Linked DNA regions of Homo sapiens. Changing the gene in region 2 together with the main gene of any one other region gives a genetic interaction. Each region holds a gene or a part of one and is shown on either strand. Other genes may lie near its edges. The genes, in order: NPR1, FN3K, AXL and MAP2K5.

Evidence for each region.
Region 1: changes in FN3K (region 2) and NPR1 together harm fitness more than expected from each alone (negative genetic interaction), as found in Homo sapiens cells (one large-scale study listed by BioGRID).
Region 3: changes in FN3K (region 2) and AXL together harm fitness more than expected from each alone (negative genetic interaction), as found in Homo sapiens cells (one large-scale study listed by BioGRID).
Region 4: changes in FN3K (region 2) and MAP2K5 together harm fitness more than expected from each alone (negative genetic interaction), as found in Homo sapiens cells (one large-scale study listed by BioGRID).

Annotation. Positions count from the first base shown.
Region 1 is NC_000001.11:153,677,691-153,685,544, reverse strand, and holds the start of NPR1 (atrial natriuretic peptide receptor 1 precursor), read right to left. Parts: upstream 6,858-7,854; 5' UTR 6,437-6,857; coding exon 5,716-6,436; intron 5,045-5,715; coding exon 4,845-5,044; intron 4,366-4,844; coding exon 4,252-4,365; intron 3,842-4,251; coding exon 3,706-3,841; intron 3,048-3,705; coding exon 2,956-3,047; intron 2,170-2,955; coding exon 2,034-2,169; intron 1,806-2,033; coding exon 1,721-1,805; intron 582-1,720; coding exon 461-581; intron 1-460. UniProt on the Homo sapiens protein: Receptor for the atrial natriuretic peptide NPPA/ANP and the brain natriuretic peptide NPPB/BNP which are potent vasoactive hormones playing a key role in cardiovascular homeostasis.
Region 2 is NC_000017.11:82,732,055-82,740,612, reverse strand, and holds the start of FN3K (fructosamine-3-kinase), read right to left. Parts: upstream 4,999-8,558; 5' UTR 4,977-4,998; coding exon 4,836-4,976; intron 2,125-4,835; coding exon 1,973-2,124; intron 1-1,972. UniProt on the Homo sapiens protein: Fructosamine-3-kinase involved in protein deglycation by mediating phosphorylation of fructoselysine residues on glycated proteins, to generate fructoselysine-3 phosphate.
Region 3 is NC_000019.10:41,254,612-41,261,487, reverse strand, and holds part of AXL (tyrosine-protein kinase receptor UFO isoform 1 precursor), read right to left. Parts: intron 5,037-6,876; coding exon 4,877-5,036; intron 3,996-4,876; coding exon 3,859-3,995; intron 1,936-3,858; coding exon 1,584-1,935; 3' UTR 1-1,583. UniProt on the Homo sapiens protein: Receptor tyrosine kinase that transduces signals from the extracellular matrix into the cytoplasm by binding growth factor GAS6 and which is thus regulating many physiological processes including cell survival, cell proliferation, migration and differentiation.
Region 4 is NC_000015.10:67,642,849-67,650,702, forward strand, and holds part of MAP2K5 (dual specificity mitogen-activated protein kinase kinase 5), read left to right. Parts: intron 1-3,382; coding exon 3,383-3,451; intron 3,452-3,539; coding exon 3,540-3,621; intron 3,622-7,854. UniProt on the Homo sapiens protein: Acts as a scaffold for the formation of a ternary MAP3K2/MAP3K3-MAP3K5-MAPK7 signaling complex.

The DNA.
Region 1 (7,854 bases), on a different chromosome or scaffold from region 2:
CTACAGGTATGCGCCACCATGCCCTGCTAATCTTTGTATTCTTTGTAGAGACGATGTCTTGCTCTGTTGCCCAGGCTGGTCTTGAACTCCCAGGCACAAGCAATCCTCCTGCCTCGGTCTCCCAAAGTGCTGGGATTGCAGATGTGAGCCACTGTGCCTGGCCCACCCTGCTTTATGTTCCACATCATAAAATTTCCTCCTCATTTACTTTTTTTTTTTTTAAAGTGTTTTCACAGGTACTATCTCCTCTGACCTTTAAAAGAGCCCTGTGAGGGAGGCTCTGCTGCTGTAATCATCATCTGAGACAGTCTCGGAGAGGGACTATGAGTCGCTCAAGGTCACACAGCAAGTGAAAGCAGAGCTGGGACTAGAATCCTGCTCCCTTACCTATCCCTCAGGCACTGCCCCTTGTACCCACCTCTCCTTTATTGCCCCCCAACACAAACACCAGCGTTCTTACCCCGCTCAGGGTCAGCCGGCTGCCTGCACTCCGCAGGTGCCTCTCAAGGCTACTGGGCTCAACGTCCTCCCAGCGCACCCGCCACAGCTCCGAGGCCAGTTCCTTCTCCAGCTGCATCTTCCTGGGATACGAAGGCTGCATCTGAGCCTGTGGCTGAGCCGCTGACCCAGGGCAGGGTGCTCAGCAGCCCCTCCTCAGAGCCGTGGGACCACACCATGCACTCAGAGATGGAGGGGGAATTCTATCCTCTGGACTGAGAATCAGGATGGCTGGGGGAAATTCTGCCTTACTGGGGACCTTGGGGGAATCACCTCAATGTCCTTACTTGGGAATGAGGCCGCAATATCTATTTCATTCTTAACTATTATAAGAATGAAAAGAAATAGTGAACATGAGGCCAGGCACAGTGGCTCATGCCTGTAATCCCAGCACTTTGGGAGGCCAAGGTGGGTGGATCATGAGGTCAAGAGATCGAGACCATCCTGGCCAACATGGTGAAACCCTGTCTCTACTAAAAATACAAAAATTAGCTGAGCGTGGTGGCATGTGCCTGTAGTCCCAGCTACATGGGAGGCTGAGGCAGGAGAATTGCTTGAAACTGGGAGGCGGAGGTTGCAGTGAGCCTAGATCATGCCACTGCACTCCAGTCTGGCAACAGAGCGAGACTCCGTCTCAAAAAAAAAAAAAAAAAAAAAAAAGAAAGAAAGAAATAGTGTACGTGGAAGTGCCTGGCACACATTATATGCTCAACCAGCAGTGATTTTTCTCCCCTCCCTCCTTGCTTTTGTATATCATTAACTCCTCCTGTACTTCATTTTAGCCTCCACTGGACGGCAGGAACAAGGCTCATTCAGCTCCCTTCTCCATTCTAGGTTGGGCACCTGGCACACACCAGGGCTCACCCTCCTCAGCTAACATGGGCATGATTGCAAAGGTTCAGAAAGTTGCTTCCTATCTGGCCTGCAAGAGTAGCAAGGAAAACCAGTCCACGCCCCTATGATGTCACCCATCAACTTCTCTGCTTCTTGGATCTTTCTGACTCTCCTTGGCCATTCCTATCCTTGTCTCCTCCCCTCGCCCTGCCATTCCCTTCTCTTTCTTTCTCCTCTGGCTTTTAAGCCTCCTTTCTTCCTCATCTCCCTTGGTTTTCCCCTGGTGCCCCTTCACCCCTGCCCTCTTCCCTCTGGGTCCCCACCGCCTCCTCTGCTATTGGTTCTCCGGGTCCCCCAGCCTCACTCAACCCCCCACATCACAGCTCACCTGTATATGAAGAAGGAGACAATCAGAATGCCGAGCAAGGAGAGGCTGCCCACCAAAGCCAGCACCTCCAGGGTGGAAAGGTGATCTGCAGGAGAGAGTCCATATTGCAGCAAGAGAGATTTGGGTTAGACAGCAGGAGGAAGAACTTTCTAATAGTCCATCAGTGAACTGGGATGATGGATGAAGGGAAGAAAAAGGCAGGAGTCATTCTCCAGAAAGCCCTCAGCATGGGACAGGAGCACCTACTCGACTGTGCTTAGGGGAAGGATGCAGCATCTCTGGGATGGAGGCCTGGAAGGCAAGGGGCAGTCACCTTGGTTGCATGCTGGGTCTTCGTTGTCAAAGCCACATTTGGGGATGTCAGGAGGAGGGTACCCCAGGGGCCAGTTCAGTTTGCGCCCCGACACAGCCACCAGCTCTTGGGAAGTCCCATTGTAGTTCAGTACAACCTAAGGGAGAGCAGGAGTGGTGGCTAGGCCAGGGCCTGCGGGGAAGGCATGCTGTGAGTGCAGCAGTCTCACCTCCCACCTACCCCAGCTCTGCTTCTAGAGCCTACATATATATCTGGGTTGTCACCTGCTTACCAAGTCCCCACTGCAACTGGACACAGGACCTCATACCACACACATAGTACTCAAGTGGAAACACCTGAAAACTATCAAGGGGTTTATAAAGAAAACTCCATTTAGAACCCGATCTCTACACTCAGGGAGTTTATAATCTTGGTTGAAGTACCAACCAAGCATTGATTTTTCTCTACTTATTTTCTTGGTAGAAAACAGGAGAAGGTAATGTTCACCTTAGCCTACATTCGCAGGCCCAGTCCATGTGCCCGTCTTCCAGGAGGCCTTCTCTGGATGACCTGTCCCTTGTGGCCATTGGCCTCAGCGCCTTCCTGTCCCTGCTCGCTTGCAGAGCTGTGTAATGTGCATCTTTCACAGCCCTGTCTCTGCTGGGAGGCGGTCCTGCCTGCCTCCCTTCGGAGCTCCCCGAGGGCAGGCTTGTGCTCCCTCCTCAGGCATGGGGCTCCCCAAGTGTGATGCCTGTGAGTCCCTATCATTCTGGTGGCTTCCCCAGACTGGAGCTGGGTCTGTTTTATCCAGGGCTCTTGTAAGTGTCCAGGCATGGTGGAATGGCTACAGGATAAACAGGTGCCCTGGCAGGGCTGTGGGGGGGAAGTAGGAGGGTGAGATGTCATTTGGAATTGGCACTGTCTTCTGGGTGCACAAACTTACCCTGAAGGCACCATTCTCGGGATCCATATCCCAGAGGGAGAAGTCTGTTTCCCGATCGCCACTGCTATCAATTTTCAGGTATCCTGTCACACCTGAGGACATGGGGGAAGATGACTATGTTTGAGAGAATAGAAGTTCAGGGGTGCCCCACTTCATCTCTTCATCCTCTAATCTTTTTTGCCTTGCCTTCCAAACATACATGTATACAGAATGATAGTAAATGGTAAAACGGCCGGGCACTGTGGCTCATGCTTGTAATCCCAGCACTTTGGGAGGCTGAGGCGGGCAGATCACCTGACGTCAGGAGTTCAAGACCAGCCTGACCAACGTGGTGAAACCCTGTCTCTACTAAAAAAAATACAAAAAATTAGCCAAGTGTTGGTGGAGGGCACCTGTAATCCCAGCTACTCAGGAGGCTGAGGCAGGAGAATTGCTTGAACCTGGGAGGCGGAGGTTGAAGTGAGCCGAGATTGCACCACCACACTCCAGTCTTGGGGACAGAGCGAGACTCCATCTCAAAAAAAAAAGAAAAAAGAAAAAGAAAGGTAAAAGAACTCAGTGCCCAGCAGGGATGATTGAGATTGGACACTTTGTAGGACTTCTGAGGGATGGGCCTGAAAAAAGCTGTGGAGGAAAAGGCTGGTGTGCATAGGTAACTGCTGCAGGACAATAGGCTTCTCATGGCTTGACACTGGGCACCTGGGATTCATCCCCCAAGGCAGCCCATTCCAGCCACCTCCAGGCCCTGACCTTGAAAGCTTCGGTTCCACATCCGCTGAGTGATGTTCTCCCCATCAGTAACAGTTCCCCCATGTGCCAGAGTCTCCGTCACTGCCTGGATATAGAGCAGGAGCCCGTCGTGGAAGGATGCTGGGATGGTGTTCACCTGTAGGGGCAAACAGAGGTCGGCTGGGGTGGGCATATGAAGGGCATGGAGGTGGGAGCTGTGGGGAAGGGAACAAGAGGCACTGGGATTTTGGAAGAGGATGGGAGAAAATAACACCCCTATATCACAGGGAGATTTTACTATTTAAACGATGCCTTTGGATTAGCATCACTTCCTGAATCCTACTAGGTAGACAGGGCAGGATGTATCGTCTCCATATTACTGATGATGACCTGAGTTTCAGAGGCTGAACTTGCCAGTGTCCTCCTCCATCATCACGAGAAACATGGAACAATGGGAAGGGAGGGAAGGAAGGGGAGAACTGGGAATAGGGAAGGATGGAGGCTGGCAGAGGGTCATGGAGTGGGGGCTGGAGGTCCACGCTGGAGGGTCCCGGGACCCCTTCTTACCAGGCCATCCTCCATGGTGAAGTTGAACTGCTCATAGGCCAGGTGTTTTAACTGCTTCAGGAATTCCAAGTACTCGGGATTATCTGGGTCTTTATATGTAATGATTTTGGCAGCCTGAGAAAGGGGTCAGTGGAGAGCAGAGAGTTGGGAGCTGACTATTCCCTAGTACTGTGGGGCCCCAACAGTTGGGAGCCCACCTCCCAGAGCTGCGTCTCTGCTTAGCTCAAGGTCAAACTGGACCCTATGCCCTGCATGAAGTGATGCCCATTCCAAAGCAGGGGATCCAATGGGATGCCTTCTCCAAGTCCTGTCCAGGCTGTGGGACTTTATCCTCCTCCCGCCTCAAGCCCATTTTCTTATCTTTTTAGCCTGCTGGTGGCGAAGCGCCCCTGGGCAGTCCCCTGCCCTTCATTGCCTAATTCCCAGTGAGCATCACCAACCTCTTTTCTGTTCTGTGAGTTACCAGGAGTGCATAAAGAAACAAACAGACAAAAACCTCTTTTCTGGAATTCTTTCAGACGCTGAGGGACACAGTGCCCAGAAATGATGTGCCACAAGCTGAGACAGCCTGGGCTTCAAACCTAGGTACTCACCTGAAAGGCCTGGCGGGCACTGACATCCTGCCCATCCCCTCTCTCCCAGGGCCTGCGGGGAGCAGGGCCCTGTCCACCTTGCAGGCTTTGCCCAAAGATATCCAGGTGGAAGAAAACGTAGTCCTCCCCACACAAGCCAGCTTCCAGGGCCAGGAGCATGAGGGTTCTGAAGGCATCAGGGGAGCTGCAGATGTAGATAACTGGAGAAAGACGGAGAGTCAGAGAGAGAAGCCTAGGTACTGCGGGAGAGACAGGAGTAGGAAAGCTGGGGCACCCAAGGGAGGAAGTTTAGAGATAGGGTGCAGGAGAGACCCAGTGAGAGTTAAGTGGTAACTCCCGGCTCAGCCTAGGCCACAGCAGGAGAAAGTCGAAGGGTGGAACGGGCGGGTGCGGGGCGGTGGGCGGGAGGAGGAAGGGGGAGGCGGAAGGGAGGAAGGAACGGGTAGGGAGAGGGGGATAGTGGAGCTGAAGGTGGAGAAGGATGGGGCCAGGAGGGAGAGAGGAGGGAGAGGGAGGGGGAGAAGAGAGGGGATGAGGCGCAATGAGAGGAGAGGATGAAAGAAGGGAGAAGGCTATAGGGAAGAGAGAAAATGTGGGAGGGAAAAAGGGACCGGAACCGAGCTGTGCTAGGGTGGGAGGGAATGAGTGGGGGTCGGGGAGATGAGAGGATAGAGACGTGGTGGGGGTGGCGGAAGAAGAGAGGGAAATAGAAACTCAGCTGTAGAAAGGGCCAGGGAGCTGAAAGTAGAATGAAGAACGGCGAGGAGAAAGAAGAGTGCCCCCAGATGAGAGAGAAAGTCCCGATGCCTCCGGCAGGTCAGAGGGGAGGCCCTGCGGCTAAGCGGCGGGACGGGGTGTGCCAGCGTCTCACCTCGGCCTTTGCGCGGCATGGTCCGCAGCAGCCTGGTGTAGTGGCTGAGGTCGTCCTCGGCGAACTCCAGGTGGTCCACCGTAATATTGAGGCGGTCGCGGACCCGCATGAACAGCCCCTCCACGAGGAAGAAGCAGTGCTCTTCGTCACCCGGCCGGTAGGCGTAGAGCATGAGCGCTTGGCGCTCCCAGCCCAGCCGTCGGTGCAGCGCCGCCACGAAGTCCCCCAGCTTGGCGTAGCTGGGCCCCGCGCGGGTGGTCAGCGCATACTCGTCCTTGACACCGAAGCCCAGCGCCGGGGCGCCGGCGGTCAGCAGCGGGACCCGCCAGTGCGCGGTGAAGCGCCCCACTGGGGCGGCGGCGTACACGCAGCCGGGGCCCAGGAACACAGCGGGGTTGTGCTCCCACTTGAGGTCCACCGCGGCCAGGGGCGCTGCGGTGTCGGAGCAGACGCCCAGCGCGTTTTCGCTGCTGCCCAGCACCGTGCGGACCGTCCAGCCCGGCAGCAAGTCGGGGCGCGCCTTCACCTGGGCCAGGGCCAGCTCCACGGCGGGTCCCACGCGCGCCCACGACCAGGGGTACGAGGTATTGGCCAGCGGCAGTACCACGGCTACCGTCAGGTTGCCCGCGTGGCTGCCCCGGAGCAGCAGCAGCAGCGGCGGCAGCAGCAGGAGCAGGAGCAGGCGCAGGCGGGAGCCAGCGGGGCGCCGGGGCCCCGGCATGGCCTCAGCGGGCACCGCAGCAGGCGAGCGCTCCTACCATGGCCTCCTCGGTCCCCTTGGGCTCAGCGGCCGGTCCCAGGCATCAGGCGCGTCCCTATGGGAAGGAGCAGGAGCGGGACGGGGACGCTCACCCCGGGGCTCGAGGCCCCCTGTAGCTGCGACGGTCTGGGCCGAGAGCGCAAGGGGCGCGACCGAGGGGGGCGCGCAGGGCGCCGCGGAGCAGGTGGGTGCCAGGAGAACGTCGGGCTGGAGAGGACCCGAGTGTGAACAACTGGGAGTGTGCGTGCGTGTTAGAGAGAGAGAGAGAGAGAGAGAAAGGGTGCGAGTGAGCGCTTCGTGAAGAAGGATGAGAGAGGGCGCGCGAGGGAGGAAAGAGGAGTGTGTGTTTGTAGCGTGCGTGAGCGCCTGCCCCAGGGAGTGTGCCAGAAGGGGCGTCCGGCCGGCCCAAGTCTCCGGCTATCCGGAGGGAACCGTGGAGGACCCGAGCCAAGCTCCGAACCCTCCCTCCCAGCCGCTTCCCCTCCCAGACTCAGTGACAGAAGAGCCAATCCAGGATCTTTAACTCCTTCCTCCCCGCCGCCCAGCCCGCGCGCTTCCCCGTGGACCATCTTCCCCGGTCTCGGCCGCCCCACGCCTACCTCTTTGGAGGACAGGACCCTCTGAAGGTGCGCCCTCGCCGGGATGGAAAGGACGGCTGAACGGAGGGTGTGTGTGGAAGCAACCGGGGCCCACTTGCGCCCCACCTTTTCCCTCGCCTCCTACCTGGTCTCCTCGGGGGAAGAGGGAAAGGTGTGCTGGTTTGGGATCCTGGCAGGAAACTGAGTGAGTGCGTGGATGTGTGTGTTTGGGTGTGGGGTGGAAGGTGACGGGTTTCTGGAAAGTCCGTTAAAGTTGAAGGTGAGCCCAGAGTGCTTGTTACCCATTCCTTCTATGATCTCCCTCTCTTTCCCTCCCTGCCACCTTCCAGACTGTGCAGATTAGCTGTGAAAAAATGATCTGGTGTCAGAGAGGAATTAAATCTTTAGCGCCCAAATTGTAGGAAGATGGGGAGAGTGGGTGGGTGTCTGGGAGGGAGGAGGTTCACACCTCAGGGACGCCCCAAGAAAATGACTGTTTTGTGTTGAGGGTTGTTAAAATGAAGGCTGTGGGAGATGACCACTGGAGGCGTAAATTGGGGAGTGGGTTTTGGAGCACTTGACAGCTGGGCCCCCGGTGCAGACTGCTGTGGAATCAGTGTGCCCTCTAATGGTCATCGGGGGTTATTGACGGCATTGCAGCGCCAACCTCTCCAACGCTGCGCCTAAGCAGGACATAAGATCACCAAACTTCAGGTCAGCAAACATTTCCAGAGAACCTTCGGTGCATTAAGCACCCACTAGGTGCCGAGGGCATAAAGATGAATATATATAGTCCGTGCC
Region 2 (8,558 bases):
TTTGCTTTTTCTTTCTTTTCTGGGGCCAGGCCTTGCTCTGTCATCCAGGCTGGAGTGCAGTGGCACAATCATGGCTCACTGCAGCTTTGACTTCTAGGGCTCAAGCAATCCTTCCACCTCAGCCTCACAACTAGCTGGGACCACATGCCTGTGCCACCATTCCTGGCTTTTTTTTTTTTTTTTTTTTTTTTTGTAGAGATGGGGTCTCCTCCTGCCTCGGCTTTCCAAAATACTGGGATTACAGGTGTGAACCACCACGCCCAGCACTGGCAAAGACTCTTTCCAGAAAATAACATCATGTAATCACAAACAGGAATTAACCAAGTGAGCTTCAACAGAAGTCTTAGGAGGTACCAGGAATTAAGGGAGGAATGCTGAGAAAGTAATGATAAGTGAAAATGCAGGGCCAAGCATAGTGGCACAGTGGCTCAGGCCTATAGTACCAGGACTTTGGGAAGCCAAGGCAGGCAGATCATGAGGCCAGGAGTTCAAGACCAGCCTGGTCAATATGGTGAAACCCCATCTCTACTAAAAATACAAAAAATTAGCCAGGCATGGTGGTACACCTGTAGTCCCAGCTACTCTGCAGGCTGAGGCAGAAGAATCATTTGAGCCCAAGAGGCAGAGCTTGCAGTGAGCCTAGACTGCACCACTGCACTCCAGCCTGGGCGACAGAGTAAGACTCTGTCTCAAAAAACAAAAAAAAAAGGAAAGAAAAAGCAAAAGAAAAAGATGGACTGGGTGTGGTGGCTCACACCTGTAATCCCAACACTTTGGGAGGCCAAGGCAGGCGGATCACTGAGGTCAGGAGTTTGAGACCAGTCTGGCTAACATGCTACTAAAAATACAAAAATTAGGCCGGGCGCGGTGGCTCACGCCTATAATCCCAGCACTTTGGGAGGTCAAGGCGGGTAGATCACGAGGTCAGCAGATCGAGACCATCCTGGCTAACATGGTGAAACCCCGTCTCTACTAAAAATACAAAAAATTAGCCGGGCATGGTGGCGGGCGCCTGTAGTCCCTTCTACTCGGGAGGCTGAGGCAGGAGAATGGCGTCAACCCAGGAGGCAGAGTTTGCAATGAGCCAAGATCGCGCCACTGCACTCCAGCCTGGGTGACAGAGCGACACTCCGTCTCAAAAAAAAAAAAAAAAAAAATAGCTGCGTGAGGTGGTGGGGTGCCTGTAATCCCAGCCACTCGCGAGGCTGAGACAAGAGAATTGCTTGAACCCAGGAGGCGGAGTTTGCAGTGAGCCAAGATTGCATCACTGCACTCCAGCCTGGGAAACAGAGCAAGACTCTGTCTTGGAAAAATAAAATAAAAATAAAGTACAAAGCAAATGATGGGTTCAAATATACTTATTTTGGGCAGGTGTGGTGGCTCAGGCCTGTTATCCCAGCACTTTGGGAAGCCGAGGTGGGTGGATCACTTGAAGTCAGAAGTTTGAGACCAACTCAGCCAACATGGTGAAACCCCATCTCTACTAAAAATACAAAAATTAGTCAGGTGTGGTGGTGGACACCTGTAGTCCCAGCTACTCAGGAGGCTGAGGTGGGAGAATCATTTGAACCCTGGGGGCAGAAGTTGCAGTGAGCCGAGATTGCACCACTGCACTGCACTCTAGCCTGGGCAACAGAGCGAGACTGTGTTTCAAAAAAAAAAAAAATATATATATATATATATATATGTGTATATATATATATTTTATGCAGCCTCATTACAGCCAAACTTATCTAGGAAAACCAGTCACATACCAGAAAGCAGTAACTTTTTATCTCCATTAAGAATGGCAGGGTGGAACTCTTGGCCCTGCCTCTGATAACCGGGCAGTTGTGTGGACGGCTCAGCCACAGGCTTCTCCCTGTTTCTGTCTCCCTCCCCATCTCTATCCCTTTCTCTGTCTCTCTCTGTTTGTCTCTGAGTCTCTCTCTGCCTGTACACATGTGCGCATATGGGTCTCACACACACTCACCTGCTCAAGCTCTTCATCTTCAAATGCTCCATCACAAAGGCGGCCCCACCTCCCGGCAGGTCGATGACCTTCATGGGCCTCGGCACCCGCACCAGGCCCGTGCTCCTGAGGGCCTCCAGGCTGGCCACCTCCCCCTCAAACATCTGCCGGGCCTGCATCCAGAACACAGCCTTGTCAGCCTTGTTGACTCAGCCAGGGCCTCTGCCCACTGGGCCCTTGACAGAAGCTACCACGTGGGAGTCACAAGGACCTTCATTCACTGATAGCTGGCTCTGGCTGGGAGCTGGCGTCCACCACAGAGGGCAGGGTGCAGAGGGGCCCCCCGTCGGAGACGAGAGGCTGCAAGGCTGAGGCTGAGCCTGGGCCGTGAGGGGTGTGGGGTCTGCAGGCTGCTGTGACAGGAGGATGCACAGGCCACGTGTGGGTGCCCGGGAGCACTGAGGGCGTGGGGAGGTGTGAGTGAACCAAGGTCCAGAGCTGGACCCCCGGGCTACCCACCTTCCTTGCTGCCTCTTAGGGTGGGGCAGCCACAGCAGAGGCCTCACTGGAGCTAACTTGGGCACACACGTCAGGCAGGGAAGAAGAGGGCTGGGCCCATCAGGCGGGGCCTCAGGTCCAGGGCAGGGGCTGGGAAGGTAAAAGGCACGGCACACCCGGCCGGCCCCCAACGCCTCCCGTGGGACCTGGGCCTTCCTGTTTCTGAAATATTCCCACAAACATTCCAGTTTTCAGTTAGGTGAACACTCACCTCACGTACAGTACACATTGGTTGAAAACATGCATTGACGAACGTGGTCCATGAATACCTTGGCCTATAGAATTGCATGTTTGTTTTGAGACAGGGTCTCACTCTGTCACCCAGGCTGGAGGGCAGTGGCATGATCTCGGCTCACGGCAGCCTCCGCCTCCTGGGTTCAAACGATTCTCCTGCTTCGGCCTCCTGAGTAGCTGGGATTACAGGTGTGGGCCACCCCACCCCGCTGTGTTTTTCTGTATTTTTACTAGAGATGGAGTTCCACCGCCGTGCGTGGTGGCTCGCACCTGTAATCCCAGCACTTTGGGAGGCCGGGGTGGGCGGATCACAAGGTCAGGAGATTGAGACCATCCTGGCTAACACGGTGAAACCTCGTCTCTACTAAAAATACAAAAAATTAGCCAGGCAAGGTGGCGGGCACCTGTAGTCCCAGCTACTCGGGAGGCTGAGGCAGGAGAATGGAGTGAACCGGGAGGCGCAGCTTGCAGTGAGCCGAGATCCAGCCTGGGCGACAGAGCAAGAGTCCGTCTCAAAAAAAAAGAGATGGAATTTCACCATGATGGCCAGGCTGGTCTCAAACTCCTGGCCTCAAGTGATCCACCTTTCCTCAGTCGCCCAAAGTGTAGGACTGCATGTTTAAAAAAATCAAACCTCATGAATGAGACCAAAGCATCTGCTGGTGCACACGAACAGAACGCCCTTTCCTTCAAAGTACCCCAGGGAAAGCCCAGGCACAGCCTCCCCAGCCTGGCAGCCCTGGCCAGCCTGCACCGAGGGTGGGTGTGAGTGTCCACAGGTGGGAGGGCGGCCGGCACACCCCAGCCCTGCTCCAGGGCGAGCCCCCCATGCACCAGGCCAGGAACTCCCGGCCTTGGGGCTGCTAAGCCCCAGGGGCCCCAGCATCACCTGCTCTTATGCATGGACTGAGCAGCTACTATGTGCCGGCCCCTCGTGGGGGTGGGAGGGAAGGAGGGGTCTCACCCTGCAGAGCTTTCAGGACCAGCTGAGGAAGTTTCCCAGAGCCCGTGGGAAGCCTGAACCAAAAACTGCTTCCCTGTGAGTAGGACTCCCCACTTTGAGGGATTTGGTTCTGAGCCGGCAGAGCAGGTGATGCCGGAGGATCCGATCGCACGCCCAGGCTGCATGGCTCTGGTGTTCCTCCTGCCAGCACTCCCCACCAGGACCCCTGCTGCCCCTCAGAGAGCTCCCCCACCAGAGTGTGCAGGGCCTTCTGAGCCCACTCGGGCCGGGAGGGCACCCAGGCCTGCCTTTCTCCACCTGCCGGCTCTCAAGGCTGAAGCTAACCTTCTCCACTTCCTCCGTTAACATTTTCCATACTTTTTTTTTTTTGAGACGGAGTTTCCCTCTTGTTGCCCAGGCTGGAGTGCAATGGCGCGATCTTGGCTCACTGCAACCTCCATCTCCTGGGTTCAAGCAATTCTCCTGCCTCAGCCTCCCGAGTAGCTGGGATTACAGGCCAGTGGCACCACATCCGGCTAATTATTGCATTTTTTGGTAGAGACGGGGTTTCACCATGTTGGCCAGGATGGTCTCGAACTCCTGACCTCAGGGATCCACTCACCTCGGCCTCCCAAAGTGATGGGATTACAGGTGTGAACCACCGCGCCCGGCCTTCCATACATTCTTAAACAGAACTATTTTCAGCAGGAGATAGAAATCAGGTCTAAACACAGACAAGGCCTGTGGGAAGGAGAACGCTGGCCTGGCCCGTGGGGTCCCTGCCAGGGGCCCAGCCATGTCTCTGCTTCTTTCCCACTGCCAGGAGGACGGTGGGCTGAGAGGGGCGGCCCAGAGCTGAGCCAAGGACCCCAAGCCTCACATCCCCCGACGCTTGCTGGATAGGAAAGTTAAAACCACCCCTAGAAGCCTGTGCGCTGCGCATGGAGGCCAAAGGAAGGTCACGGATCGTGCAGACACAAACCTTCACAGAACGCTTGAGCCGGGCTCACCCAGCAGGTGCCACCTCCCAAGGGCCAAAGCTGACCCCTCCCCAGGCCCAGCCCCAGGAAATGCGCCTGCCCCCGACCCCTCCGCCTTCCCAGGCCCCGCAGAGACCCGCAGAGCCCCCGCCTGCGCACGGGCCAGCACCTGCGTCCTGCGGTTGACTTTGACGAACACTGGGCCTGCGTCCGTGTCGTAGGCTCGGCCCTCGCTGATGCAGCCGGCGCCGGGGCCGCCGAAGGCCCGCAGGGTCGCGGTGCGCAGCTCGGCGCGCAGCAGCTGCTCCATGGAGTGCGGGGCGCGGGACTCTGCTCGCTCGGAAGCCCCTGTCGGCTGAGGCGCTGCGGGGCGGGGCGGGGCGGGAGCGCGCGGCGCGTGACCCCGGGCGGCGGGAGGGGCGGCCTCAGGCGGGCTCGCCGCGCGCTCCCCGCGTTCGTCCGGCTTCGCGCTTCCTGCGCCCGGGATTCGGGGGAAGCAGCCGGGAGTCCGCGCAGCTCTTCGCGGGCGCGCTGGGGCTTGAGCTCCCTGCAGGGACCCGGTATCCCTGCCCCGCAGCGGACGCAGGTCCGGCCCTCGGCCCGGGCGCTGGTCACAGGCCTGGCCGGCTTCCCACACTGCAGACCAGGCCGGGCCCAGCGGCCCCCGTGATGACGTGGGGCTTGCGCACTGGGACGCCAGGTGCCGATCGGAGAGAGAGGCTGACGTGGGGGCTCCGATGGCACGCGCTGACCCGGCCCAGGGTGGGGCTGCTGATTCCAGGATGTCCTGGGAAAGGGACTTGAGACACAGGAATGCCCACGCGCGCCCATGCATGCATACACGTGGGTACACACGCGTGCACACGAGCAGGTGCGCACCTGAGCCCAGTCCGTGCTGAAGTCATTTGACGTGAGGTTTTTTTATTGTTTGTTTTTTGTGTTTTTAAGAGATGGAGTCTCTGTCTCCCAGGCTGCAGTGCAGTGGCGCGATCTCGGCTCACTGCAAGCTCCGCCTCCCGGGTTCAAGCCATTCTCCTGCCTCAGCCTCCCGAGTAGCTGGGACTACAGGCGCCCGCCACCACGCCCGGCTAATATTTTTGTATGTTTTAGTGGAGACAGGGTTTCACCCTGTGAGCCAGGATGGTCTCAATCTCCTAACCTCGTGATCCACCCGCTCGGCCTCCCAAAGTGCTGGGATTACAGGCGTCAAGCCACCGGCCCGGCCTGCCCAGCTACATTTTGTAGTTTTAGTAGACATGGGGTTTCCCCATGTTGGCCAGGTGACCTGCGTGCCTCAGCCTCCCAAAGTGCTGGGATTACAGCCGTGAACCACCACGCCCGGCCATGCATGAGGTTTTAATCAATAAATCTGTTTTTTTTAGGGCCCCAACAATTGTCTTTTCCCACAGAGATGCAGGGGTCCTGCCGCGGGGAGGGAGCCTTTGGGAGCTGCCTATCCCCGCGGTCCTGCCCACTTGCTCAGCTGGGCTGGGGTCATCGGGAGGCTCCTTAACTCCTACATCTGGCACCTCGGCCAGGATCACTGGAACCTGGGCTTAGCGGTCACTGTCAAGCAGGACATGTCCATGTGGCCTCCTGGTGTGGCCTGAGCTTCCCTGAACATGGAGGCCAGGTTCCAAGAGTGAGCACTGGGAGAGCCAGAGCTCCCAGAGAGCTGGCAGAAGCAAAGGCCTTTTCTGACCTGGCCTCAGAAGCCACACACCATCATTTCCACCTCCTTCCATCGGTCTCCAAAGCCGCAATCAAGGCAAGGGGATCCGCAGCCACCTCTTTTTTTTTTTTGAAACAGGGTCTTGCTCTGTCACCCAGGCTGAAGTGCAATCTCGGCTCACTGCAACCTCCACCTCCCGGGTTCAAGCGATTCTCCTACCTCAGCTTCCTGAGTAGCTGGGATTACAGGCACGCGTCACCACGCCCCGCTAATTTTTGTATTTTTAGTAGAGACGGGGTTTCACCATGTTGGCCAGGATGGTCTCAAACTCCTGGCCTCAGGTGATCCGCCTGCCTCAGCCTCCCAATGTGCTGGGATTACACATGGCACCCGGCCAAGCAGCCACCTCTTGACAGGAGTGGCAGGGCTGCCGCAGAACAGCAGGTAGGACAGGAGGATGACTGTGGTGTCTGCAGAAAGGGCATGTGCCAGTCCCTGGCTTTTTCTCATCTGAAGCCCACCCTGCTATCGCATCTTGACAGAAGGTTCCTGACAGGCCAGTGTGAGCTCTCGTACGTCTGTAAATTTCTTTCTTCCTAGTTGACAGTTTGGCTGGGTATCAAATTCCAGCTTGGAGATCAGACCATGTTCTTTAGGAACCAAGAAGCTGCCAGCTCCAGTTTTGATGTTGAGAAGCTTATGGCCATTTCAGTTCTTATTCTTTGTGTGGAAACTGTTCTATCTCTGCAGGCTTTTAGGGTCTTCTCTGTGACACCAGTGAAAAATTCCCCAGGGAGGTGTCAGGGTGAGTCTCCTGTCATCCCCTGAACAGGACTGGTGGGTCCTCCAATCCTGGGACAGCTTTTAGCCCTTCATGGCGTTCTCCCTCTGTATTCTTGGTTCTCTTTTTTGGAATTCCAACACTGTGGTCTAGAGTCAGTCCTCTCTGTTACTGCCTCAAAGCCCCTTGTAATTTTTCTTCATACAACTCATGAGTCTACAGTCAGATATTAGGCGTCACACAGAGAACCATACGAGTGCTCAGGTCTCTCAGTGAGAAGAGGTGCCTGAATGAAGAAACAGATATGCAGGCACCAGGCTAGGAAGTCCTCTATGTGGGGGGTTAAGAGCTGTTGAAGATTCAAGGGCAGGGCAGTTAAGTGATCCCAAGTTTCTTAGAGAATTAGTAGAGTAAATTGTATGGTGTGCAAATAATACTGTTTTTAAAACGACCTGTATCGGCTGGTTGCAGTGGCTCATGCCTGTAATCCCAGCTCTTTGGGAGGCCGAGGTGGGTAGATCACAAGGTCAGGAGTTCAAGACCAGCCTGATCAACTTGGTGAAACCCTATCTCTACGAAAAATACAAAAAAATTTTAGTCGGGCATGGTGGCACACACCTGTAATCCCAGCTACTTGGGACGCTGAGGCAGGAGAATTGCTTGAGCCTGGGAGTGGAGGTCGTACTGAGCCGAGATCACGCCACTGCATTCCAGCCTGGGTGACAGAACAAGACTCCGTCACAAACAAAACAGAACCTGCCCTCTGTCCGGTTTCCCGTTCTGGGAGTGGTACCACCCATCTTTTTCCCCATCTGCCTGGATGTCTTAGTACAGGGCCTGGTCTGCGGTGCTGGTCAGGTGTCGGGGCCACCCATGCTTGTGATCCTACCATCAGCCCAGAGGAGAGGCGTGGACGGAGTAAAGGTGGGATGTGGACCTCAAGCTGGAGGAATCAAGGAGGACCCAAGAAAGGGGCCTGGCACAGACATGGGCAGGGTGTGGGGAGACCACAGGACAGAGCTGAGCCTGGCTACAGAGCTGGCGCCACCCAGGCCTGGGGTGTGGGCTTGATGAAGGAAGTCTGAGAATGATATCCTAACCTCACCCACCCTCCCCATCTCCTCTCGGCTCCCCTGGGCCACCCCAAGCAGAGGCCAGCTGGTTAATGGAGTGGTTCAGGCAGAGGCGTGGATGGGTGGAGGTGGGATGTGCAGACGTGGCACAGGCTTCAGTGAAATACGTGGACAAGCCGGTGGCACTGCTCCCTCTCTCTCACCACCCTGTCCTGGCCCCTCCATGGCTCCTGGGCCTTTGCCCTTCTCACAGTCCTGCTTACCCACTCACAGGAAAGCCCCCGCCAGCCCTCTCCCTGCTGCCTGGAATTCCCCCTCCAATATACCCCTTACAGTGCACCCCTACATCATCTTTCCAAGATACAG
Region 3 (6,876 bases), on a different chromosome or scaffold from region 2:
TAATAGTCTAGACCTGTGGACCTTTAGAATCTTAGAAACTTAGAACATTTGAGTCTTAGAACTACAGTGCCTAGAACTATAAGATTTTAGAAATGTGGATTCTTGGACTCTTAACCATGGTCCTAGAGAGGCAGAATGCAGCAAAGAACCTAAAGGTGTCCAACATTAGAAATTATTAGAACTTTGGTGTCTAGTTAGTCACAACTGAGTGTGAGAGTCTTATAACTTAGATGCTTAGGATCCGGAATCTTGGACCAATGGAATCTAGAGTGCCTTGAAACAGAACAGACCGTTAGAATCTTATTTAATCATCTAGAATCTTGGAGCATCTGATCTAGAATCTTAGACACAGAGAATCTAAGATCTTAGAGTAAGTCTTAGAATATCACATCTTAGAACACCGGACCTTAGAAACTCCATCTTTAGACTCTTGGAACTTTTGAATTGCAGATTCTAGAGCTTTCGACCCTTAGGATCTAGGATCTTATACAAGAGAATCTATTATCATAAAGCCTCAGAAACTATAATTGATCATCATTAGAATCTTAGAACTTGAGAAGATAACATTTTGAAGCCTTATGATCTAGAGCCTTACAGCCAGAGAATCTAGACTCTCAGAGCCTTAGAACATCACATTTTAGAATCCTAGGCCTTAGAACCTCCATGTCTAGAACTATAGAATCTTTAGAATCTATAATCTTACATTTTAAGGACTCTGAACTCTAGAAGAATAAACATCTAGACTCATAGAGCCTTAGCTCCTAAAATCAGAATCTTAGAACTTTAGAACCTAAAACCTTGAGGCTTTATCAAAAATGTTAGAACCAGAAAATCTAAAACCACATAATGTCAGAGCTTTAGAACAGTAGGTCTTAAGGTTGAGTGCAGTGGCTCATGCCTGTAATCTCAGCACTTTGGGAGGCTGAGGTGGGCAGATCACTTGAGGTCAGGAGTTTTAGACCAGCCTGGCCAACATGGTGAAACCCTGTCTCTACTAAAAATATAAAAATTAGCCGGGTGTGGTGGCACACACCTGTAATCCCAGCTACTTGGGAGGCCAAGGCAGGAAAATCACTTGAACTCGGTAGGTGAAGGTTGCAGTGAGGCGAGATTGCACCACTGCACTCCAGCCTGGGTGACACAGTGAGACTCTATCGCAAAAAAAAAAAAAAAAAAAAAAAAAAAAAAAGTAGGCCTTAGAACCTTAGCACTTTAATAGAATTAGAGACTTTGGAATTTCAGGTCCTTAGAACCAAAGACTCACAGCATCTTTGAAACCTAGAACCTTTGAATCTAGACTCTTTAAACCTTGGACTCTAGAGTCTTGGAATGTTAACACCTGGGAGGGCTTCAGATATTGCAATCCAACCCCTTCCTTTTACAGATGGTGATGCTACTGCTTTCAAGGTGATGCTACTGCACAGAGAAGGGGAGGGACCTGTCTGGGATGGAGGTGGGATAGGTAGGAAGACAGGGCTGCAAGTGGGGATAAGGCGTGGGGTGGGAAAGTGGGAAGGTGGAGTTTTCCCCAGTGGCAGTGCTTAGCTTGGATCCTGAGAGGGAGTACCAGGTGGAGGGTTGTCTCAGGCACCATCCTCCTGCCCTGGGGCTGCTGGGGAGCCCCTATCAGCAGGCTGAGCGGGGCTAGGGGTTGTGGAAGGGCAGAGGACATAGCGTCCAGCAGGATGGACCTCAGCCGCAGTGAGGCAGCTACAGGAATCCTTAGGGTCTGGCTGGGTTGGGGGGTCAGCTCCTCCTGCAGCTCCAGGGGGTTCAGGATAACCTCCACCCTCATCCATGTTGACATAGAGGATTTCGTCAGGCTCCTGGGCAGGAGGCAAGGCCTTCAGTGTGTTCTCCAAATCTTCCCGCAGCTCTGTAAAACTTGGCCGGTCCTGGGGATTTAGCTCCCAGCACCGCGACATCAAGGCATACCTAGGGCAGCAAAATGAGGGGTGGGAGATTGAGCAGGGACTCAGAAGGGGTGCATTCTGGAAGCCTGGGGACATTTTAGGACACTCAGGGGACTGGGGGCATTTTAGAGGGTTATAGGGAGCCTCAGCAGTTTGAGGCCATCTATGGGGATTTGGGAATTCCCAAGAATTTCTGAGTTGGGTCCTGGGAGACTCAGGAGCTGGGAAGGGTCTCGGGAAACCTGTCTGTATATGGAGTAGTATTCTGATGAGGGTTTGCTAGAACAGACCTTCCAGCTCCCCAGAACAGACTTGCATCAAAGCCTGGCTATGCCACTTACAAGCTGTGCTGGTTTAAAATAGGTCCATAAATTCTTTGACCCTCCTCCCTGCAAAAGACGGAGAATAAATCCTCTCCTCTTGAGCATGGGCAGGACTTAGTGACTTGCTTCTGATTTGGCAGAAGTGATGGTGTGTGTGACTTCTGAGACTAGGTCATAAAAGGCATGTGGCTTCCTCGCACTTTCTCCTGGGTTGCCATGTTGTGAGTAAGCTCAAGCAGTGCCACAAAGGGGTCCACATGGCAACGAACTGAAGCCTCCTGCTACAGCCATGTGAGTAAGCCACCTTGAAAGCAATCCTCCAGTCCCAACCTTCAGATGACTGCAGCCCCCAGTGATATCTTTGTAACTTCATTAGAGATCCTGAACCAAAATCACCCTGCTAAGCTGTTCCCAGTATCCAACTTTCAGAAATTGTGTGAGATAATAAACGTTTGTTGTTTTAAACTACTTGATTTGGGGATATAGATAACAAACACACCAGCTGTGCAATCTTTGGCAAATAAATCACCCTCCCAGACTGGGCGTGGAGGCTCATGCCTATAATCCCAGCACTTTGGGAGGCTGGGACGGGTGGATCATGAGGTCACGATATCAAGACCATCCTGGCTAAGGTGGTGAAACCCCATCTCTACTAAAAATACAAAAAAAATTAGCTGGGCATGGTGGCACACGCCTGTAGTCCCAGCTACTTGGGAGGCTGAGGCAAGAGAATCGCTAGAACCTGGGAGGTTGCAGTGAGCCGAGATGGAGCCATTGTGCTCCAGCCTGGGCGACAGAGCGAGACTCAAGTCAATAAATAAAAATAAATTACCCTCCCTGTAGGACTGGGTTTTCTTATCTGCAGAATGGGAATCATAATGATACCTATCTACATCACATGGCTGTGGTAAGGACCAAATGATTTGACACATGCCAGGCACCTAAAACAGTGCCTTCTAGTCAGTTATATGAAAATGTTAGCTGTTATTTTTACTCGTCTCAGCTCTTGGAGTACCCAAGGTGGACTGAGGAGTCTGACGCCCCAGGCTGTCTCCTCCTGACCCAAAGTCATCCTCTCTTTACCCTCAAAGTGCTAGCTAAATGTCACGGCCTTCTCCGCATACTCCAATATTGCAAAGTTTGGTAAGCATTCCCTGAAGGATCCTGCAAATATCTCAGAGGAGACCTGAGTCTGGAGAAGGCCAATAAAACAAACTGAAGGGTTTTGCAGAGAGTCTCAGGTGTTGAGGAGCATGTCGGGGAAGCATGGTGTGCTCAGGAGTCTGGAATGAGAAGTCTCTGGGAGTGCATGTCCCAAAGGCAGGGCCGCCAGGTAAGACTGTGCTGTTATTCACTACCCAAGGATACCTGGCTTGGGGGTGGGGAGCCAGGGGGCTGATTCAGCCCACACAGACAAAGGAGGAAAGGGTGCCTTTAGCTGATTTGCACCCCACTGGTTAGTGATGGCCCTACTCAGAGCATTGGTGAGGGGCAAGTGGGTCACTCAGCATTCTCAGGGATTCTGTCTGGGTTATAGAGAGTCCTGGACCTGTGAGGGCCATCTGGGGGTAGTCAGGGGTTTGGAATGAATTCTGGGTTGGGGGAGACCTAAGGGTCCTCACAGTCCATCCAGACAGTCCGCAGGCTGCTTCAGGCGATTTCCCTGGCGCAGATAGTCATAAATCTCGCTGTTCTCCACGCCCGGATATGGGGTTTGGCCTCTTGTGGCAATCTCCCACATTGTCACCCCGAAGGACCACTGTGAGGGGCAGAGGGAATTAGACAGTCTCTCCTGCACAGAATCACCCGCACCAATACCCAGGTTCATGGGTACACCCACACTTATGTACACATGTTCACAACCATCCTCTGGGAGCATCACAAGTATTCATAGAAACATAATACTTTAGCCGGGTGCGGTGGCTGATGCCTGTAATCCCAGCACTTTGGGAGGCTGAGGTGGGCGGACTGCCTGAGGTCAGGAGTTTGAGACCAGCCTGGCCAATATAGTGAAACCCCGTCTCTACTAAAAATACAAAAATTAGCTAGGCATGGTGGTGGGCGCCTGTAATCCCAGCTACTCGGGAGACTGAGGCAGGAGAATTGCTTGAACCCGGGAGGCAGAGTCTGCAGTGAGCTGAGATCATGCCATTGCACTGCAGCCTGGGTGACAGTGCGAGACTCCATCTCAAAAAAAGAAAAATATATATATATAAAAAATACTTGACACGGGTATACACATGAATAAGTAACTTTTGTGGATGCATACACATGCTCACCATCACACACATATACACACTTCATGGACACATGAGCTCATGTGCCACTCTGCACACCCTGGCTGTCCACATTCTATGAGTGTGCGCACATGCACGCATAATCACTGCAGCTTCTTCTAACCTAAACTGTCTACATTGCTACCATGCACACGTGGGCCTGTATTTATCCTGGGCATGTACACACCACTATTCAGAGATGCCCACCATACCCCAAGACATGCCCAGCCCATGTGGACAAGCCCCTGCAAAGGGAAGCCCACATGTCCCTGTGACCCTTGCATCCACAGCCACCCAGGCATAGTGTGTGATGGTCAGGCCATGCCCTCCCATGGTTCCCCACTCTTGGCGGGAGTGCACCTACCACATCGCTCTTGCTGGTGTAGACACGGTCAGCTAGACTCTCAATGGCAATCCACTTGACTGGCATCTTGGCGATACGTCCCTGGCGGTAGTAGTCCCCATTGTAGATCTTCTTGGAGAGCCCGAAGTCCGCCACACACACGGACATGTTCTCATTCAGCCTGTTTGGATTGGGGAAAGGAACAGGGTCAGGGCATCAGTCACCTCCACCAGGAAGCCTGCCCTGGCTCTCAGACACATCTGCACCTCCTCCCCTCACTGTCCTGGCTGCGGGTGGGGATCTGTCTCCTAAACCTTCATCCCAGTCCAGAAGGGAACTGCTTTACTTCTTGTTCACTCTGTCAAGTGAGGATGGGACAAAGGGCTTCCTCAGGACTTCCCAATTTTGGCTCTTTGCTAGATTCTAAGGTCCTTCCTTGGGTTTGATTCCTTGATGAAATTTTTTTTTCTTGAAGTATACTGTACATATGGAAATGTGCACAAGTCATAAGTAAGCAGCTCACTGAATTTTCACACACACACACACACACACCCATGTAACCAGCACCCAGATTAAGAAACAGAACATGGCTGGGCATGGTGGCTGGCGCCTGTAATCCCAGCACTCTGGGAGGCCAAGGCAGGTGGATCACTTGAGGTCAGGAGTTTGAGACCAGCCTGGCCAATGTGGTGAAACTCTGTCTCTACTAAAAGTACAAAAATTAGCCAGGTGTGTTGGTGCACATCTGAAATCCCAGCTACCTGGGAGGCTGAAGCAAGAGAATCAGTTGAACCCAGTAGGCGGAGGTTGCAGTGAGCTGAGATCACGCCACTGCACTCCAGCCTGGGCAACAGAGTGAGTGAGACTCCGTCTCAAAAACAAACAAAAAAAAAAACAGGCACAGTGGCTCAAGCCTGTAATTTCAGCACCTTGGGAGGCCAAGGTGGGAGGATCACTTGAGGCTAGGAGTTCAAGACCAGCCTGGAAAACAAAGCAAGACCCTGTCTCTACAAAAAAATTTAAAAATTAGCTGGACATGGTGGCACATGTCTGTAGTTCCAGCTACTTAGGAGGCTGAGGCAGAAGGATAGCTTGAGCCAGGAGTTGGAGGCTACAGTGAGCTATGATCATGCCACTGCACCCCACCCTAAAGGACAGAGTAAGACTCTGTCAAAACAAAAAAGAAAAGAAAGAAAAAAAGGGAAAGAAAGGGAAAGAGAGAGGGAGGGAGGGAAGGAAGGAAGGAAGGAGATAAAGAGAGAGAAAGAGAAAGAAAAGAAAGAAGAAAGGACAGAGAGAAAAAGAAAGAAAAGAAAGAAAAAGAAAGAAAGAGAAAAAAAGAAAAGAAAATCCACAGGACATTCATATGATGGAATACCATACCACACAGCAAAGAAAAAGAGCAAACTACCCCTACACAGATCCATCTCAAAAACATCATGCTGAGCCATAGAAGCCAGACACAAAGCAGTACAAACTGCATGATCCCATTTGTATGACTTTTCAGAACAGGCTAAACTAGCACTGAGAAGTCAGGATAGTGGGTACCACTTGGCGGTAGTGATTGGGAAGACGAAGAGGCATGAAGGAGCCTGCTGGGGCTAAGAAATATTCTTTACCTTCATCTAGTGGTTACATGGGTCTATACCCATAAAAATTCATCGAGCTGAGCTGCATGTGTATATTTTAGTGTATGTAAAATATACATCAATTTTTTTTTAGATGGGATCTTGCCCTGTTGCCCAGGCAGTAGTGAAGTGATACCATCATGGCTGACTTCAGCCTCAACCTCCTGGGCTCTAGCAATCCTTCCACCTCAGCCTCCCAAGTAGCTGGAACCACAGGTATACACCACCATGCCCAGCTAATTTATTTTTTGTAAAGACAGGATTCACTATGTTGCCCAGGCTGGTCTTGAACTCCTGGGTACAAGTGATCCTCCTGCCTCAGCCTCCCAAAGGGCTGGGATTATAGATGTGAGCCACTGCGCCTGGCCAAGACTAATATTCTAACTCTGTGGT
Region 4 (7,854 bases), on a different chromosome or scaffold from region 2:
TTTGGGGTTAATTCCAGGAGGGTGGCTAGCAATGTGGAATCATGTCATTTCTGGGTTGTTGGTGGCCTGGAGATGCAATATATCTTAATAGTCATATATCTTAGCACTGAATAAATGGCTTTTGAAACCTTAAATAAGTGATTCTCAACCTTACTTTGGGTTAGGAATTACCTGGGGAGCTTTACAAAATAACAAAGATGTGGGCCCAACCCAAGGGATTCTCATTCCATTGTTTTGGGGTAAAGCCTGCACCTTGGGATTTTTTTCAAGTGCCCTAGGTATTACGATATGAGGCCAGGGTTGAGAACCATTGATTTAAGGTTAATAATAACTTCATTCCTTTTATCAGACTTTTTTAGAGTGAGAGATTCCTGGTACTTGTCATCATAGTAGGAATAGCTGTAGTATTTTATGCTATAGGATTGAACTGATGCTAGATGAATTAATTTTGTTGGTAAGTTTTACACAAAAACAAAAATGTAAGTGAATATTGTTGGCAAGTGACTATTGATCAGGAGAAGTGTTTAAATGTTTCTTGGCAGTTTTGTATTACACTTACAGTCTAGTTTACTGAGATCTTATAAATAACCCCAAAGCAAACTCTTTTATTTTTTTTGAGACAGAGTCTCGCTCTGTTGCCCAGACTGGTGTGCAGTGGCGTGATCTCAGCTCACTGGAAGCTCCGCCTCCTGGGTTCACGCCATTCTTCTGCCTTAGCCTCCCAAGTAGCTGGGACTACAGGTGCCCGCCACCACACCTGGCTAATTTTTTGTATTTTTAGTAGAGATGGGGTTTCACCGTGTTAGCCAGGATGGTCTCGATCTCCTGACCTCGTGATCTGCCCGCCTCAGCCTCCTCCCAAAGTGCTGGGATTACAGGCGTGAGCCACCGCGCCCAGCTGCAAACTCTTGATAGAAACCACCTATGCCTTTTTTTTCCCCACCTTCCGCTTCCCCAAATCAACGCCTGGCCAATGTCAGGACTATAAAATGTACTTTAGAATTGTCCTTTTCTTTCCTTGCTCTATTAGCAGTTTATAATGCATAACTTATGCTTTTTTCTTCAGTATGATTGTATATATATTCTTCAGTTGTAATACAAAATGTAATTCAAAGTTGAATGCTACATAACTACACTATCATAGTAATTCTGAATGTTAAGTTTTTATCTAGAAATGTCTAGAGCCAGAAACTCTGCCACAAATCATAAAAATTGTTTTCCACCTATTCTATTCTCATCACTGCCTTTTAAAAGTAAAAAACAAGCTGGGCACGGTGGCTCACGCCTGTAATCCCAGCACTTTGGGAGGCTGAGGCAGGTGGATCACCTGAGGTCAGGAATTCGAGACCAGCCTGGCCAACATGGTGAAACCCTGTCTGCGCTAAAAATAGAAAAATCAACCGGGTGTGGTGGCAGGTGCCTGTAATCCCAGCTACTTGGGAGGCTGAGGCAGGAGAATGGCTTGAACCCGGGAGGCGGAGGTTGCAGTGAGCCAAGATCGCGCCACTACACTCCAGCCTGGGTGACAGGGCAGGACTCCATCTCTAAATAAATAAATAAATAAATAAAACAATTACTCTTGAATTAGTTTCACTGACATGCTTAGTAGAATTTGAACAGTATGGTCTTCTTTCTTAAAAAAATATGTGTTTGAAATAAACTAGAATTTATTCTAGATAAGTTTATAAATATTTTATATTTATGGGTTATAAATCACTGTGGGTAATATCACTCAGTGATTGATATTTTAAATAAACCATAAAGTACTGAAAAGCCCATGAGACTGAGTCCAGAGGAGGGGGTCCTACCATTCCCAGGCTCTGTGGCTCCCAGGAGGGAAACGTGGTTTCCTCCTCACTCAAAAGAAGGGAGTTAATGAAATAAGATTTCTTCAAGCTTTAACTTTCTGTAACAGGATTAGCAAAGAACATTACCTGACTGGAAAAAAAAAAGATGATATATTTTTAAAATTCCTTATTTCTCTCATAACTAAAAACCCCACTTAAAATGTTATTTTTGGCTGGGCATGGTGGCTTACGCTTGTAATCCCAGAACTTTGGGAGGCTGAGGTGAGCGGATCATTGAGGTCAGGAGTTCAAGACCAGCCTGGCCAACATGGTGAAACCCCATCTCTACTAAAAATACAAAAATTAGCCAGGTGTGGTGGCAGACACCTGTAATCCCAGCTACTCAGGAGGCTGAGACACGAGAATCGCTTGAGCCCATGAGACAGAGGTTGCTTGAACCCAGGAGACAGAGGTTGCAGTAAGCCGAGATCATGCCACTGCACTCCAGCCTGGGTAACAGAGCAAGACTCTGTCTCAAGAAAAGAAAAAAGTTATTTTTTGGCCAGTTGTGATGGCTCATGCCTGTAATCCCAGTGCTTTGGGAGGCTGAGGTGGGCAGATTGCTTGAGCTCAGGAGTTCGAGACCAGCCTGAGCAACATAGTGAAACCCCCATCTCTACCAAAAATGCAAAAAATTAGCTGGGTATGGTGGCACACCTGTGGTCCCAGCTACTTGGGTGGCTGAGGTGGGAGGTTTGTTTAAGTCTGGGAGGCAGAGATTGCAGTGAACCAAGATCGCCCCACTGCACTCCAGCCTGGGTGACAGCATGAGACTGTGTCTCTAAATAAATAAATAAAATGTCATTTTTATTCATCATCCTCTCTGCTTATTGCCTAGTGTCTGATCACAAACCACAAGATAGTTCTTTTTTTTAAGAGACAGGATTTCTCTCTTTCACCCAGGTGGGAGTGCAGAGGTGCAGTCATGGCTCACTTCAGCCTCAAATTCCTGAGCTCAAGTGATCCTCCCACCTCAGCCTCCCAAGTAGATTGGGACCACCCGATCATACTACACACAGGTAATTTTTTTTTTTTTTTGTAGAGATGGGTTCTCGCTATGGTGCTTAGACTGGCCATATACCCCTGGCCTTCAGGTACCCTTCCACCTCAGCCTCCCTTCCAGAGTGCTGGGATTACAGGTGTGTGCCACTGCACGTAGCCAACATAATTCTTTTATATTGGTTTGAGGGTCATTCCTATGCTCCTCTTTTGAAAATAGCCAATGTGGCTAAAATAGAGTGCATAAATTAAGAGTGTTATAACTTAACTGACTTTTAAAGCCATTACTATTGACCTTTGAGACCTGGCTTTTTTCTTTGGTCCCATCAATCACTTCTGTACCACCTCCCCCAGTATAGAAGGACAAAAGGTTAGACAGATGCAGATACAGCTTGTATTACTGGGAATTATAGTGGTAAGAAGAAGGAGGTGGGGAAGAATAAAGGAACTACCATGTTTTTAGTTCTTATATTTCATAGTGATTATAACTAATATAATTAGAAGATTAAAAAATATTAATACCTTTCTATATTTAGGTCATACTACTAGATATTACACTGGAACTTCAGAAGCAAATTATGTCTGAATTGGAAATTCTTTATAAGGTAATTTTTTCATAATTTTTATTTGTAAAGCATGCCTATGGTATTGACTTGCAGGTTTATAACTACTTTTGTCTTATTTTTGTTACAGTGCGATTCATCATATATCATTGGATTTTATGGAGCATTTTTTGTAGAAAACAGGATTTCAATATGTACAGAATTCATGGATGGTGAGTTTTCCCTTTTATAATACTTTTAAAATGATTTTTAGAGTATATAGTGCTTTAAAACCTGGTTTTGATATAGATATCAAATAGAATTAAAGATAATAAAATATGCTAATAATTACCTCATTTATACTCTAAGATTATTTCAGTGTTAGGGGTTCCTGGGGTTAAATATTTATAGCCGAACTGTAATTTTAAGAATTGAACTTCACTTTTATTGAAAATTTAAATAGAACAGATTAAATGCTAGTCTAATTGGTGGTTTGATATTTGATTCTTTTGCACAATCTGTCTTTACTTGCAAAACAGATGTTCTGTTCTTTTAATGTTTCAATAGCCAAAACAGATTTTCTTTTAAAGAAATCTATTAACCCAATGTCCTGTGTCTTTCAGAAAGAAATCGGTTCTTAATTGCAAGATAAGAAATTGTTTTTCAACACAGCTGTTTAGCCAAGATGTGTTTAATTTTCTTTGGACTTTAGCCCTTTCCTTCCCTCTCTATTTTTTTATTCATTTCTATTTTGGTAGTTCTTTCTTGACCTGAATATTACGGCAAAATACAGATTTCTAGGGACATATCAGTGAAATGATGTCATCATTATTATTATTTACCAATTTTAAATCTAAGCAGTCTTTAAATTTTACATATTCAGTTTTCCATAGTCTAGTCCATTAAAACACAACTTAAGAAAATATTGTTAGTTCCTTGTGGAGATTCTCAGTACATTACTAAAGCAATTAGTTTGTGCCCTGCAAAACTTTAATGAGCCAACATTGGTACCTTGATACTGTCATAAGGTGTACAACATGCTCTAAATTAGTTATAGTAGAATGTCAAAAATTAAAAATCTTACAGCCATATAGGTAAGTATGGTAACTGTGGAGACTGACCAGAAAAAGTGGATTCATTGAGCCAGTACATGTTACTGTGTTGTAACTTTTATCATTCTTTCTTTGAAGTCTTCAATTTTTCAGTTCTACTCAAACATTTTTGTTGAAACAGGGCACGGTGGTTCACGCATGTAATCCCAGCACTTTGGGAGACTAAGGTGGGAAGATTGCTTGAGCCCAGGAGTTTGAGACCAGCATAAGCAATATAGTGAGATCTCATCTTTACAAAAAAATTTTTAAAAATATGGCCGGGCACGGTGGCTTACTCCTGTAATCCTAGCACTTTGGGAGGCCGAGGCAAGCGGAGTTTGAGACCAGCCTAACCAACATGGCGAAAACCCGTCTCTATAGAAAATACAAAAATTAGCCAGGTGTGGTAGCGCATACCTGTAGTCTCAGCTACTTGGGAGGCTGAGACTGAGAATTGCTTGAACCTGGGAGGTGGAGGTTGCAGTGAACCAAGATCGCGCCACTGCACTCCACCCTGGGTGACAAAGTGAGACTCTGTCTTAAAAAAAATAAAAAAAGGAAAATTAGCTAAGCATGGTGGTACGGGCCTGTAGTCTCAGTTACTCTGGGGGCTGAGGTGGGAGGATTGCTTGAGCCCAGGAGATTAAGCCTGTAGTGAGCTGTGATCGTGCCACTGCACTCCAGTCTAGGCAACAGAGTGAGACCCTGTATCAAAAAACAAATAAATTAAAATTTTTTATTGAAATATAACTCAGATACCATAAAATTCACCCTTTAAAAGTGTACAATTCCATGGTTTTTGATATACTCACAAGGTTGTGTAGTCATCACCACTGTATAATTCCAAAACACTTTTTACCACCCCCAGAAAGAGACTTCCTACCTATTAGTACTCACTCTCTACTTTCTCTTTCCTCAAGTCCTTGGCAACCACTGATTTATCTTCTGTCTCTATGGATTTACCTATTCTGGACATTCCATATAAATGGAATCTGATAATATATGGCCTTTGTGTCTGGCTTCCTTTACTTAGTATAATGTTTTCAGTGTTCATCCATACTATTGCATATATGAGAACTTCATTCCTTTTTATTGCTGAATAACATTTCGTTGTATGGCTATACTACATTTTGTTTATTCTTTCATTAGTTGATGGACATTTGGGATAGTTCTACTTTATGCATAATTATGAATAATGCTACTCTATATATTTGTGTACAAGTTTTTGTGTGGACATACGTTTTCAGTTCTTTTTTTTTTTTTGAAACAGAGTCTCGCTCTGTCGCCTAGGCTGGAGTGCAGTGGGGTGATCTCGGCTCACTGCAACCTCCACTGCAACCTCCACCTCCTGGGTTCAAGCGATTCTCCTGCCTCAGCCTCCCGAGTAGCTGGGACTACAGGCGCGTGCCACCATGCCCAGCTAAGTTTTGTATTTTCAGTAGAGACAGAGTTTCACTGTGTTAGGATGGTCTCGATCTCCTGACCTCGTGATCTCCCCGCCTTGGCCTCCCGAGGTGCTGGGATTACAGGTGTGAGCCACTGCACCCGGTCAGTGTTTTCAGTTCTTTTGGGTATATACCTAGGAGTAAAGTTGCTAGGTCATATGGTAGCTTTATGTTTAACTTTTTAATAAACTACCAAACTTTTCCAATCTGTTTTACACCACTTTGCATTCATACCAGCACTGTATAAGGTTCCATTTTCTTCATATTTTTGCCAATACTTGTCATTTTGTGTCTTTTTAAAATTGTGGGCTTGTAGTGTGACATGGTATCCCATTTTGGTTTTGATTTAGGTTTCTCTAATGACTAATGATGTTGAGCATCTTTTCATGTGCTTATTGGCCATTTGTATACCTTCTTTTGAGAAATATGTTTTCAAATCCTTTGTCTATTTTTTAAATGAGTTATTGGGCTTTTATTGTTGAGTTGTGAGAATTCTTTATGTATTCTAATACTTGGCTCTTATCAGATATGGGATTTCCAAATATTTTCACTTATTGTTTATCTTTTCACTTTCTTTTTTCTTTTCTTTTCCTTTTTTTGAGCTGCGGTCTCATTATGTTGCCCAGGCTAGTTTTGAACTCCTGGGCTCAAGTGATCCTCCCACCTCAGCCTCAAGTTTTATTGTTTTAGCTTTTATATTTAAGCCTTTGATTTATTTTTGAGTTAATTTTTATATATGGTATGAGATAGGGGTCCAAATTTATTCGTTTGCATGTAGATATACATTTGTTCCAGTACCGTTTGTTAAAGACTGTTTTTCCCATTGAATTTTCTTGTTATACTTGTTGAAAATTGACCATAACATATATTTCTGTACTTTCAGATCAATGCGTATACATCTCGCATTGATCTAGTTGTCTATCTTTGTACCAGTACCACACCATATTTGATTACTTGTACTTGAAAACTCTGGATTATTATAGTTTTTAAGTTTCAAATCGAGAAGTGTAAGTGCTCCAACTTTGTTCTTTTCAAGATTGTTTTGGCCATTTTGAATACCTAGCATTTTCATTTGAATTTTAGAATCAGCTTGGCAATTTCTCCAAAAAAATCCAGCTGGGATTTTGATAAGAATTGAATTGAATTTTTAGATCAACTTGGGGAATATTGCTGTCTTAACATTATTTAATCTTCCACTCCGTGAACACAGATGTCTTTCAACTTACTTAGGTCTTCTTTAATTGTTTTTCAATGATTTAAAAATAATTTTTAGGGTATAAGTGGTAACTATTTGTTAAATTTGCTTCTAAGTTTTTTTAATGCTGTTTTTCTTAATTTCATTTTTGGATTGTTCATTGCCAGTGTATAGAACTGTAATTGATTTTTGTATATTGATCTTGTATTCTGCAACCTTGCTGAACTTGTTTACTAATGTTAATAGCTTTTTGTGGATTCCTTAGGGTTCTCTATATACAAGATAATGCCATCTGCAAATAGAGGTAGTTTTAGTGCTTTCTTTTCAATTCTGAATGTCTTTTATTTCCTTTTCTTGCTTAATTACCCTGGCTAGAACCTTCAGTACAATGTTGAATAGACTGATGAGAGCAGACATCCTTCTCTTGTTCCTGACCTTAGAGGGAGAGCTTTCAGTCTTTCACCATTAAATATGATGTTAGCCATGGGTTTGGAATAGTTGTCCTTTGTCAGGTTGAGGAAATTCCTTTCTATTTCTAGTTTGTTGAGTTTTTTTTTTTTTTAATTATGAAAGGGTATTAAATTTTGTCAAATGCCTGTTTTATATCTATTGAAATAATCGTGCATATTTGGTCCTTTATTCTATTAATATATGGTATACTATATTAATTGATTTTTGCAAAATGAACCAGTCTTGCAGTGTTGGAATTATTCCACTTAGTCATGATGTGTAATT